4 separate regions of the Homo sapiens genome follow, and regions 2, 3 and 4 are each reported to be linked to region 1. The links are microRNA targets in miRTarBase. Many come from high-throughput screens and were not tested one by one. Region 1 holds a microRNA gene; each other region holds the end of a gene's coding sequence. Distances are between the middles of the regions.

Region 1 (3,244 bases):
GACCTAGTGATTCGCCCGCCTTGGGCTCCCAAAGTGTTGGGATTACAGGCGTGAGCCACCGCGCTGGCCTTGTTTTTATTTTTAACGGACGTTTTTGTAAACATTTATAGTTTTAGTAATATATATTTTTATCCATGTATTATTTTGAAGTTAGTTACATGATGCCACTTTCTCAGTTCTTTCTAGCAAAAATTTATTTATTTAACTATCTGATTGGACTGTTAATGGTTCTCTTTCCTTTTTCTTTCCTAATTCATAGAATCAGAGCTATTTTTAGACGATTGTATACTTAAAAAAATTCTACCATAATCAGCTCTTAGAAGCATTAAAATGTTTGGAAGATATGGGGGAAAACAAGAAATACTTTGATATTCTTAGGGGATTTTCCAGGGAAAATATGAGTAGCACTGACCTTTTATATCAAAATTTACCCACTCGAATGGGCACTTCACTGTCAACTTAAATTTTAAGAGGACCTAAAAAGGTTGTCTAGAATATAAATTAATTCAAATGTTGCAAGTTGACATATCACTTGAATTTCATATGATACATATTTTCCTAGATCTTTGGATATAGCACTAAGCATAGGAAAATGCTGAAAGGGGTGGACTACCTAGGGACCTTGGGACTTGAAGAATAAAACGGTGATGTGTTATCTGCGTTTCCTTAATATAGCCCATATATCCCAGACAGGGCTCTTCAGAAGCATCTAACCCGGAACTGCCAATAGCCATGGATAAAAGAAAACTCCAAAAAAAGTACTTTCTTCCCTAGCTAATTGACCAGAAATGGGGTGTCCCAACAATAAAAAAAACCTTTTTGGCAATACATACACCCTCAGCCAAACATCAATAGAAAAAAATGCCCCTGCTTTTGGGATTTCAGTGAAACTTAGTGGGGAGTTGATTTTCACACCACTACCCTACTCTATGAAAGCAGGTGGTGGGACTCGAATTTCTTCCTTCCTTTTCCTAGGGTGGGGCTGAGCACGGACCTAATTTTCTAAATGTGGAGCTAATCTTCCCACTGCTGCCTGGTGGAAGCAGACAGCACTTTTGTCAGCAAGTTAATGGGGCAGTTGAAATTCTGCTTCCATTCAGCAGAACCAGGAAGTGCTCCAATTCCTCTGCCAAGATAGTGTTAGCAGGACTGAGCAGGGACCTGGTCTTTTTGCCTCTCCCTGGCTGTCTCAGGCAGTATTCTGATTCCCCAGCCAGTGTAGTGGCCGTGGGGTCCAGCAGGCAGCTGAGCCTCCTCTGTACCCAGGATTAGTGAGACTTAGGAAGGCAGTACAAATTTGGGTCACCAAGCATTTCATTGATGCCAGGCATTGATGCCAGGTGGGAGTTGAACCTCAGCTCCCCACTGGGCCTTGATGTCAGTAGGGCTCAGTAGGGAACTGACCCTCTATTTCCACCTGCATAAATGAAGCTGAATGAGGTGGTAGGATGTAGAGCTGGTTGACACTCTGCTTTCTCAAACCCTGTGCTTCCCTGGTATTAATGGGGTTTAGCAGACAGTGAGCTTCTGCCCCCATCTGTAGTAACAAAGAGGTATGCATCAGTCCTCTCCTTACCCCTTGCTGGTGTCAGAGTGTCCAGTGGGAAGTCGAGCTTATACTCCTACTCAGAGGCAATGAAGCAATGTGACTCAGTGTCCTACTTTCATCAAGATGGTGTTAACAGGGCCAAAGGTGTGGCTAAACCTCTACCCCACTTATCTGTAGTGAGGCAATGTGAGTCACTGCCCCACTTTTGTCATGATAGTGTTGGTGGGGTTCAGTTGGAAACAGAATATGCATGGCAAACTGCCTTCATGCTACACTTGAACAGGCAATTGTCTGCTAAAAAGAGGAGATGAAATAGGATCCATAGTCTCATAATGTAATATCTAAAATGTCTAGACTATAATGGAAAAATCACTTGCTATACGAACAATCAGAAAAATCACAGCATGAATAAAAAGAACCAACGAACTGATAAAACACCAAGGTGGTTGAAAGCAAGGTGAATCAGATCTTCGCATTATCTGATAAGGTTTTTAAAGCAGCCATCATCAAAATGTGTCAACAAGCAATTACATATACTCTTGAAACAAAGGAAAAAAATAGAAAACCTCAGCAAAGAAATAGAAATTATAAAAAAGAACAAAATGGAAATCATAGAACTGAAAAGTGTAGTAATTAAAATAAATTCAATAGGTGGGCTCAAGAGTACATTGGAGATCACAAGAAGATAGAATCAGTGAACTTAAGTACAGATTATTGGAATGCACTCAGTTTGAAATTTATCTCAACTCAGGGGAGAAAAGAGACCTGGCAGAAAATGAACAAAGTATCAGGGAACTTTAGGACAATAACAACTCAGGGGAGAGAAGAGACCGGGCAGAAAATAAACAAAGTATCAGGGAACTTTTAGGACAATAACAAAGATCTAACATTTGTATCATCAGAGTCTGAGAAGAACAAAAACATTTAAAGAAATAATGGTTGAAAACTCTCCAAATTTAGTGAAAGCCATATCCTATAGATTCAAAAAGCTGAGGAAACTCCAAGTAGGATAAACCTAAAAAAATGTATGCAAAGACACAACAAAATTAAACTTGTGAGAACTAAACAAAAAGAAAAGAATTAAAAGCAGACAGACAGAAACAACATATTGCATATAGAGGAATACCACCTTGAATTGCAGTAAATTTCCCACCCTAAAACTATGCAATTTAGAAGGCGTGGTGCAAGATTTTTCAAGTACTGAAAGGAAGTAAATATCAACCCAGAATTCTGCATCCAGCAAAAATATTCTTCAGGAATAAACGGGAAATAAAGACATTCTCAGGTGAAGGAAACCTACAAGAAGGAAACTTATGATACTTTGTTGCAAGTAAAAGCACCCTTAATGAAAGGCTAAAGGAAGTTCTCTAAACAGAAAGGAAATGATAACAAATGAAGGCTTGGAACTTCAAAAAGGAAAGAAAAGCATCAGAATGAGTAAGAATGGGGTAATATATTGAAGACTAGTCTTCTCATGAGTTTCATACACTATATTTGATGTTTGAAGCAAAAATTATGACATCATTAGATGTGATGCTCAATGTATCTAGAGTAAATAATTAAGATCATTATATTTAAAATTTAGGAAAGGTAAAAGGACCTAAATGGTAGTAAGATTTCTACACTTCACTCAAAGTGATAAACCATTAATAGAAGTGATAGCTTACTTACATGCATTGTAACACCTAGAGCAAC
Region 2 (3,244 bases), 79 Mb from region 1:
CTGTCACCCAGGCTGGAGTGCAGTGGCACGATCTTGGCTCACCGCAACCTCCACCTCCCAGGTTCAAGCAATTCTCATGCCTCAGCCTCCCGAGTAGCTGGGATTACAGGCGTGTGCCACACCATGCTTGGTTAATTTTTGTATTTTTAGTAGAGACGGGGTTTCATCATGTTGGCCAGCCTGGTCTCCAACTCCTGGCCTCAAGTGATCTGCCCACCTTGGCCTCCCAAAGTGCAGGGATTAACAGGTGTGAGCCACCGTGCCCAGCCGTAAGTGGCTATCTTAAAAATGTTATGAAGAATAGCTGAGTGCAGCCTCATGACAGGGAAACAGCACAGTGTTGCAGTTTTAAGAGGAAGGGCACTTGCCTGGCTGCTCATCAGTGTCTGCAAATTGGCCAGTCATCTCTGACCATATGATAGTAACCTGATTTCCTTTCTTGCCTTTCTAGGTGATTGACATCTCTATGATCCTTGCAGAAGCCATCAGGAGAACTCACAATGGAGAATCCGTTTCTTACCTATTCAGCCATGTCCCTTTATAATAGAGTAACTTCTGAGGCTTTTTGAGAATAAAATCCACCCCACCCTTGTTTCCCCTTGGTATTTGATGACAAATTCAGCAGAAGACCCGGCTTGCTCCAGTGTAGCTTTCTACATCCCACATCAGGTATATTAGAGCTTATCCGAACTGGGGAAAGACGGATTGAGATTAACTGCTGGGACCTCCTACCTGCATTATCTCATTCTGGCTTCCTTGATAATTCTGTGGGCCTTGCAGCTTTAACTATAGCTCAGCTGCTGCAAGATTTCAGACTTTTGAGGATGTTGTGTGAGGGTGTTTGACTGTGACTGGGGAAGCTCAGACTACTTTGTATGTGAATGCTTCAGGGTTTTCTTTGTTGAGAACAACTAGCAACAAAGGCAACCCATGTGTGACCAGTTCTCCCCAAGGTCTATGCTAAATTATAGCAAGAGCCCTGGGCAACCCCAAACCTAGTCCTGGTAGCTGAGCACCCTGTAAGGCAGGAGCAGGCAGCTCAGCTTGAGCAGACATTGGGTGGGGGGTGGGGGGTGGTTGAGGGGGGAGGCAGCACAGTGCAGCAAATGTTTCTTGGGAGGAAGAAGCCTGATCCATCACCATCTGCTTGACTATGTAGCTTGGATTCTCCTTTGTACCTATCCCTTTCGATTTGGCTTTACCTTCATCTATCTTGATCCTTTCCTGGCCAAATATCCTCTTGGGCCCAAATGAACATTGTACCATAGTCTTCTGGAAAGCAAACATGCTTCCTGCTATGTAATTGCTAACATTCATATTAGATGATGTGCTGTAGCTTGATCTTCCTTAGCCTACTGCCACTGAGGCAGTAGGTTTTAGGTGGTATCGTAGTGCCTTTTGATTAATTTAAGTATTTAATTTTCATCTTCCTTCTTTGGATCTATTTGGCCTCTCAAATGAACTGAGATTCCTGTTAAAAAAGATTGATGTTATTGTCTCTTGTAGAGGAAACTAATAAAGTGTGTGTACCTGTGTGATTTGGGGTCTGTATCATACATAATCTGTACTGATCTCTCTGCTAAAGGTTTGGTTTAGATAGATGTCTTGCTGTCCATTGATAGCTCTTATTTGTTTCCAAACTACGTTAGCTTCATTGTTAAACCAAGAGAAGACATTGGCAGCAGTTTTATTCAACTGTAAGACTAAGATGTCTGGAGTTTACTGAGAATGTGATAAGAGTGTAATTCTGTGCAGTATACCTAAATTATAGCATGTATAATGTCTGGTGGATCTCTGGTTCTTACTCCTGAAGATCCAAATTAGGTATTTTCTTATGGGAGGAGAATTTCTGTGATTTATTCATTTTGAACTAATTTTGCCAAATGTGATAATTTCCTTCCATTCATCAGTAATTGACATACGTTTGGCATTTACTTTCTTTGTTTTTTTTGATTTTTTGGTTTTTTTTTGAGATGGAGTTTCGCTCTTGTTGCCCAGGCTGGAGTGCAATGGTGCAATCTTGGCTCACTGCAACCTCCGCCTCCCGGGTTCAAGCAATTCTCCTGCTCAGCCTCCTGAGTAGCTAGAATTTATAGGCATGTGCCACCATGCCCAGCTAATTTTATATTTTTAGTAGAGACAGGGTTTCACCATGTTGGTCAGGCTGGTCTTGAACTCCTGACCTCAGGTGATCTGCCCGCCTCAGCCTCCCAAAGTGCTGGGATTACAGGTGTGAGCCACTGGTGCCCGGCTGGGCATTTACTTTCATCCCTGCTAAATAAGAACTATTTTGAGAAGGTAAATGTGCAAAATTTAAGGATGAATTATTATGCATTCCAAAATTTTAAGTTTCCTTCTTTCTTTCCTTTTTTTTCTCTTTCTTTCTTTCCCTTTAGCTCTCTCTTTCTTCATTTCTTTCTTTTCTTTCCTTCCTTCTCTTTCTCTCTCTGTCTGTCTGTCTGTCTTTCTTTCTGTCTTTCATCTTTCTCTTGCTCTGTCACCCAGGCTGGAGTGCAGTGGCTCGATCTTGGCTCACTGCAACCTCCACCTCCTGGATTCAAGTGATTCTCCTGCCTCAGCCTCGAGAGGGATTACAGGTTATCTGGGATTACAGGTGTGCACCATCACACCTAGCTAATTTTTGTATTTTTAGTAGAGACAGGGTTTTGCCATGTTGCTCAGTCTGGTCTCAAACTCCTGGCCTCAAGTGATCCGCCCACCTTGGCCTCACAGAGTGCTCGGATTACAGGCATGAGCCACCATGGCGGCCTTAAGTGAGTGAGTTTCTTGGCCCATCATCAAATAAGGGTGCTCTTTTACTTTGGGAAGCTACATGGCTACAGAGCTTCATGAAGAGTGCTTCCTTATTTGTGAAGCCCAGGTCTACTTTTGTTTATTTTGTTTTTGCTTTTGTTGGATATCGGGATATCTATTTTACAGCTAGCTCTTTGATAAAAGTGATTCAGGAGGGACTAAAGTATACTATGAAATGTGCGCCTCTAACCCTCTAGACCTCTTTAATCTCAGATTTTTGCTCTGGGAGAAGCTGATGTGAAGCACCAATGCCTTCACTTGCTCATCATGCTATTTCCTAAAGTATTGGATCAGTGGGTCAGGTCTCATTGTTACAGAATATTTTGACATTAAGATCTCTCTTGTGGGCCCCTTTGGGTAATTCATTTCCTAGGATGAGGTTTTGAGATTATTCAAAAAAGGCCCAGTCCCCAACTTTGATCCCTTTCAA
Region 3 (3,244 bases), not on the chromosome of region 1:
AAGCTTTTTGAGCCTTTGTAAAATGTAAGAAATGTTAGCTTTGTTGTGAGAATTAGAGATACTACATATAATATGCCTGGAATGCAGCAGGCACTTAATAAATAATAACCATTTTGGTAGTGGTGGGATAGGCGATTGGGCTTAATGTATAATGATGCCAGAGGTTTTATTAAATTGTTGAAACAAATTCATTAGATAAGCATTTTGTGTAATGAGGACTGAGGAGTGGAAACGCAGTTCCACCTAACATATGTGTTCTTCTTTCATTTCTTTCTCTAGTCTTTGAAGCCATCAAATCATGCTACCATCCAGAGTATAGTGAGAGCTGTGGGGGTCGTTCCTGGGATTCCTGAGCCTTGCTGTGTACCAGAAAAGATGTCCTCACTCAGTATTTTATTCTTTGATGAAAATAAGAATGTAGTGCTTAAAGTATACCCTAACATGACAGTAGAGTCTTGCGCTTGCAGATAACCTGGCAAAGAACTCATTTGAATGCTTAATTCAATCATTAGTTTATTTTTATGGACTTCTTCCTGTTTTTTTTTTTTTTTTTTTTGCACTGCCAATGCATTTTGTTTCAAAAGATTATTTCTATAGTCAGAGGGGAATGAGCAAATAGACTGAAGATTGCCACCAAGGAAAAGAACTGTATTTGTTTCTGAATGTAACTTAAAGCAAGATTTTTAGTAAATATGGACATCTATTTCTCTTTTTGTAATCAAACACAACAACTTATCAAACTGTTTTTAGAACTGTTAGAGAACACACTGGTTTATTTTTGTAATGTTCTTTGAAAACAGAATGGAGAAGCAGCAATAGCTTGTCATTTATCTCATTTAATGACTAATGGGAAATAGAGAACAATTTCGCGTTTTGAATTAGGCTTATTGCCTTAGAATCCTGAGAAAGTGCTAAATAATCAACTCTGATGTTTTTCTTAAGTTCTTGAGACTCTTGTTTATCCTTGTTTTTCCTCCACAAGTCATTGTCTAAGTGTAATGGAAAGTTTATGCTGAGCGTTAGTGTGTATGTATGTGCGTACATGCGCCAGGTGCCTGTGCCCTCTGTAGGATGGTTTGCTTAATATGGTTTTATAATTCAGTTTACACAGGATTCTTTATTTTTTTTAATTTTGTATTTTGGCAAACACCATTCAGTTATAAGAACTTTGCCAAATATGATAGAATAATTCAAGAGCATATACAGAGAGTTACCACTTGACCCAGCTATTTAATTGCAAATACAGTTGTTTTCATTTCATTTCCTACCAGAAAAAGGAATCAGAAACCTAGTTTTTGAAAACACAAGTGTAATTCCTCTTTTGTACTTCTTTTTCACAAATGCTTTTATTTATTCTAAATTGAATTTAAAAATCCTTCCTAAAGCCATTAACTCTTTAATTCTCCTGATATGCCTTTACTTCCTATGAAGTTATTGGTAGATGTTGAGGCCCAAAAACTGGTAGAATATTGAAGATCTTCTTAAATGACCAATTTAACCATAACCAAATATTGAATATCATTCTTCAGTCACATCTAAGTCAGGCACTTTTTCACATAGATCAGGGCTTTTGGCTCAGTCACGAAATCTACAAGTTAGCAAAGCTTACAAAACATTATTCGTCAGGTATGGGAATCAAATATAGACACTTGTTTGTCTTTGCTTTCCATTTCTATGTGTCACATACATATATGTGTCCTCTTATAACTTTAGTCTTCAAAATTATTTCAATATCCTTCTTCTCACTATATTTATTTGTGTGATGGAAATGCTTTCAGGCCGTAGATCATTGTTGGTGTTAATCTGTGGTTAATCCTCATTTTAGTTCCGTCTTATCTGATACTTAGAAATATCTCAGCCATTTTGGAGGCTGTGCAGTATCAGAAGACGTGGAGTTTGTTCTGTCTCTGCCTGTAGCTAATTATGGTGGTTCAGTCATTTAATAAATATGTTTTGAGCATCTATTTTGTGAAAGGCACTGTGTTACCTGTGTGTCTTTAGTGTCCTCACTGGTAAAATGAAGAGGCTGGCCATGAGCTGGAAGGGTTAAGTTTATAATTCCAGCTATTTCACACCCGTCTTCCTTGAAGGAATGATAGTGATAGATATAAAAACACTGTAAGTCCCTCTTTTAATAAACTAAATGAAAGAACATCCTATACTTCGCTGTTTGTAAATTAGTATGGCATTCGCTTTGGTTTAAGTGGTATTTTATTGCAAACCCATTAAAAGAATAACTCATGAAAAGAAGCTCTTTGACACCTTGGGGTACACAAATGTTGGTGTGGGTGTGTGTTAATTCTGTGAGTGAGACACACCAGTTCTAAAAAAAATGAGTGAAGTTCTGGTGCCTGAGTTACCATGCTTTCTTCTAGTTCTTACAGTAGCATAAAATTAAAGATTCAAAGTGAGATGGAGGATAAAATTACTTTTTAATACATGTTCTCAAACATTTGAAAATAAAAGTATATGATAGAAGGGGGCCAGAGTGTGGCCACCATCCTGATCGTACTGTTTTTCAATAAAGAAAACTTTTTCATTGGTAGATTTGGTGAAATTCTAAATTTAGGTTTTTTTCTAGAGCTGTATCAACCAAAACTTCTGGCAATTCCCAGTATCACTTCTTAGCCTTCTTATATCCAAATGCCTGTTTATTACCTTTCTTAATTTGAATCAATGCCTAGTTATTACAGATTGCACCCCACAATGGCCAAAAACCCACTACATAATAAAATTTACAGGTACTAACTAGTTAAGATTATATTTTAAGTAGCAATTGATATAAAATTACAACACAATGAAAGAACTTGGGTAATCTCTTAGCAATGGAAATAGGTTTTAACCAGCAGTTTTTCTGGGTGCTTTGTAACTATCATTTTACTAATGAATTGAGGATGTATTATGGTTTAAATTGGAAGAGTTTTATTCCCAAAGAATAAAGCAAGATTATCTTTCAGTAGTAGAGATTGAAGTAAATGTATTAATATTTTAATTAATACAGATTTACTAAGAGTAGTTAGAAAATTTAGTAAGTGCCTGTTTTACAAATTGTTAGGTACTAGTTTCTGTATAATTCCTACACAGAAGCTTTAGAAATCTCCTGATATTAAATTATTAAATTGGCATTCATGAAAAGAGAAGCTACAATTATAAACTCCATTTGCTAAATCATGCATAATACTCTCTCTCTCTCTTCCCCCACAAGTAATCTCTCTACCCCATGCAGTGTGCACACACACACACA
Region 4 (3,000 bases), not on the chromosome of region 1:
GAGCAAAATTCCATCTCAAAAAAAAAAAAGGCAATGGTTGGTATTTGGTATTTAAGGTTTTAAAATTGCATTTTTGTTTCTACCACCTGTAAGCTACAAAAATTAAATGGGTTTCTTTCGCCATCTGCAGCTATCACTTGTTCAAGTGAAAACTAGACACACTTACTTTAATAAGCCCAGTTGAAGCCACATTCTCTACTCATCTATTTATTGCTTAAGGCTATTGAGAGGTGGTTTTCCAGCCAGGGCTAAAGAAAGCCACTTTGGGAGTTCGGTTTCAGACGAGGAAGAAAATATGCACTCAAAGGCATTAAAAACAAAACAAAAAAACCCCCCAGAAACAACAACAAAAAAATATCAGTGAGAAGCTGCTTTTTGCAGTTCATATTAAAAGCCAGACCCTGCTTCCCTAAAACCACGCAATGCAAGCTGCTGTCCTTAGCAGCTGCTACTCCTGGCCCGAGAAATGAAGGCGTCCCAGATCACATGTCACCAGCTTAGGCGCTTCTCACACCCTCGATAACAGGTGTGCGGGGCGCAGTCCGAGGAGCAGCCCCCAAGGGACTGCACCCGAGGACGGAGAACGGATCTCACCAGTGAAGCCTCAGTGGCAAATGTTTTGATCATTTGATGTTGGAATTTGTCAAATCCTAGCTAGAGATAAGTAAATTTCCTCATCATACGCTGAGGTTAAGAAAAACATTCTGATAAGAGTGAGATTCTCGTTCAAGACTGGAGAACCCAGGTGGTCCTTGTTCTCCTACCCACAGGGGGCCAGGTCTCAAGTTTCCTATTCTCAAGCGAGCTTTCAGACCCACTGGGCCAGTTCTTTCAGATGGCAACAAATATCTGATGAATGAATGAATAAATAAATACAAGTGACCAGAAGAGTTAGTGAACACAAAGACTAATATTAGTTTCCTCTAAAAAAAATTTTTTTAAAGAACAAGGAATACATTGGACAAAAAAGGATGACAATCCCTGATCTGAAATAGCTTTAAATAGATTCTCTCTCCCTTTTAAAAATGAAACACCTTAAAACCACAACGGTTTGGGTTTTTAAACTCTCCCCTTCCCCTTAATAAAAAAGGCTGGAAAAATATACAAAAACCTACCCTTTGGGTGTAAACTATCTGATAGTCTCTCTCTCTCTCTGTCTCATGGAGAATCAATACATAATAGTGCATTAGGTAGACAGGATAGTAGACATCTGCAGACGAGATGAGCAATTTCAGCCATGAGGCAGAGGACTGAATAACCCTGAAGCGGTGCTTCCGTGGGGGAAATGGGATAGGAAAGGTATCATTCAAATGGAGCTCAGTGCAGACCTCGTAGGTCCAGTCACATGCCCCCAGAAAGGCAGCCCAAGGAAGCAGCAGCCAAGGGGTGTGGCTGCCCCCACACAGATGCAGGCGCACTGCACATGGGTGTGCTGCTGGGTCAGTGGAGAGCACTCTCCCCCAGCCCCATCGGACACCAAGGCCACAAAAGTACATTCCTTCTGGGTGTCTGTCCCCACACACCCCGTCGAGCCATTTCTGCAGCCAGTGGCAGGGGGCCCAAAATATTTTTGCAAAGGACTCCAAAGCCAGGACAACCAAAGGGGACAACCTCCTCTTCCCTGCCCGGAGGGTCAGAGTTCAGGTCGAGGGCCCCAAGAACATGCCCTTACTATGACCTGGACCTCAGCCAAGACCAGGGCTGTGAACTCTGTCATTTCACTTGGGACCATGACCTGAGGGGACAGACTGAGGACACTGGGCAGAATCGTCCCCATCACCCTGGAGCTTTCATAGCAGCGGCTTGACCTGGCTCCGCAGGGCTGTGGATCATGTACACCCTATTCCTAGCTGCTGCCATCACCTGCCTAAAGGCGTGGGCTGGAGAGGCATGGCGTCTGAGACCTGAAATCGTGTACATTGGGATTTGCCACGAGAAAGAAAGAGGCAGTTTTGCACTGCTCCTCAGAGCCTGTACCCCTATCAACTAGCTTTACTTCAAGTTTCTGGTTCATTTTCTAAGGCAGGTGAAGCCCTGAGCTTTTCAAAGGCCTGAGCTCCCTTCAGGGAGACAACAGTATCTACACATGATGTGGTTCATTTAATGCAGCAGTGATTTTTTTTTCTTTTTCAGCAAAAGTTGGCAGTTAGGGTTCTTTAAAATATATATTTAAATAACTTTTTACATTTACATACAATATCTTAAAAAAAAACAAAGCAGAGAACTCAATCCCACACCTCGGAACCCCAAGCACACACACTTTACAAAACAGAACAACATGTTATCAAAAGAGGCAAAGGACTCGGAGAATTTTGTCTGTTGATTTGTTAATGGGGTAGGGGGTGGTTTTGCCACAGGGGGCTCACATTTTGGGTTGACAAGGAGGGCTCTCTTTATTACCACTTTTGTGTGTTTGTCAAAGCTAAAAAAATTTTTTGTTTTTGTTTTTTGAAAGAAGTCAGTTTGGAGTCTCCATACAGTTCCCAATTTCCAGGTAAGAGTTCCTCCTGAGCTCAGGCTCCCGGGCTGCTGCTGTCTGCTGAGTGAGATCTCGGTCCTGGGAAAGAGAGAGAACAATCATCAGGGGAGGGAGCTGGCACCACACATGGGACCAGGCAAGGGACTCAGGTGGCCCTGTCCCCAGCATGTGGCAGGCCTGTGTATGCTAAAGGGCTGAAGCAGGTTCCTGTTCCCAGAGGGGCTCCATTTGTGCTGAGAGCACAGGTACCTCCTGGAGAGCCAGCCTCTCACTTGGATGTAGAGAGCTTTCTAGAAGCCCTCAGGTAGCACGAAAGCCCAATATATTAAAGATGTTAACTGGGTGCCCGGTGTGCGTCAGGCCTTGGGAAAAGCAGCAGAGAGGACTCCCTCACAGAGATTACGAACCTTGAGACAAAGTAATTTAGCAATAGGATGACAGAAGTGAACAGAAGGTGTGTAGGTGATCTCAGAGGGGGCTGGAGTGTTACCTAACCTAAGATCTGGAGGAGAAAAGTAGCG

Evidence for each region. Region 1 holds the annotated microRNA hsa-miR-6134 (UGAGGUGGUAGGAUGUAGA, at 1,437-1,455, shown strand). A microRNA usually pairs through its seed, bases 2 to 8, with sites in the 3' UTR of a target mRNA and lowers its output. Matches are read on the target gene's strand: a 7mer-m8 pairs with bases 2 to 8, a 7mer-A1 pairs with bases 2 to 7 and ends in A, and an 8mer does both.
Region 2: miRTarBase lists PRPS1 as a target of hsa-miR-6134. The part of its 3' UTR that is shown has no 7-base or 8-base seed match.
Region 3: miRTarBase lists BMP3 as a target of hsa-miR-6134. The part of its 3' UTR that is shown has no 7-base or 8-base seed match.
Region 4: the mRNA of ZNRF3 is a reported target of hsa-miR-6134. Seed matches in the 3' UTR shown: 7mer-m8 at 228-234.

What each region holds. Positions count from the first base shown.
Region 1 is chrX:28,493,786-28,497,029 of GRCh38, reverse strand. It overlaps MIR6134 (microRNA 6134), which reads left to right and starts at 1,367; the gene lies at 1,367-1,475.
Region 2 is chrX:107,649,489-107,652,732 of GRCh38, forward strand. It overlaps PRPS1 (phosphoribosyl pyrophosphate synthetase 1), which reads left to right. Exons shown (of 7, transcript NM_002764.4): 7 at 452-1,538. The coding sequence ends at 544. Among named protein-coding and RNA genes, the nearest start is that of PRPS1, 23 kb to the left of the region's middle.
Region 3 is chr4:81,053,066-81,056,309 of GRCh38, forward strand. It overlaps BMP3 (bone morphogenetic protein 3), which reads left to right. Exons shown (of 3, transcript NM_001201.5): 3 at 280-3,244. The coding sequence ends at 471. Among named protein-coding and RNA genes, the nearest start is that of BMP3, 24 kb to the left of the region's middle.
Region 4 is chr22:29,053,136-29,056,135 of GRCh38, reverse strand. It overlaps ZNRF3 (zinc and ring finger 3), which reads right to left. Exons shown (of 9, transcript NM_001206998.2): 9 at 1-2,557. The coding sequence ends at 2,514. Among named protein-coding and RNA genes, the nearest start is that of C22orf31, 7.2 kb to the left of the region's middle. RefSeq lists a silencer at 641-935.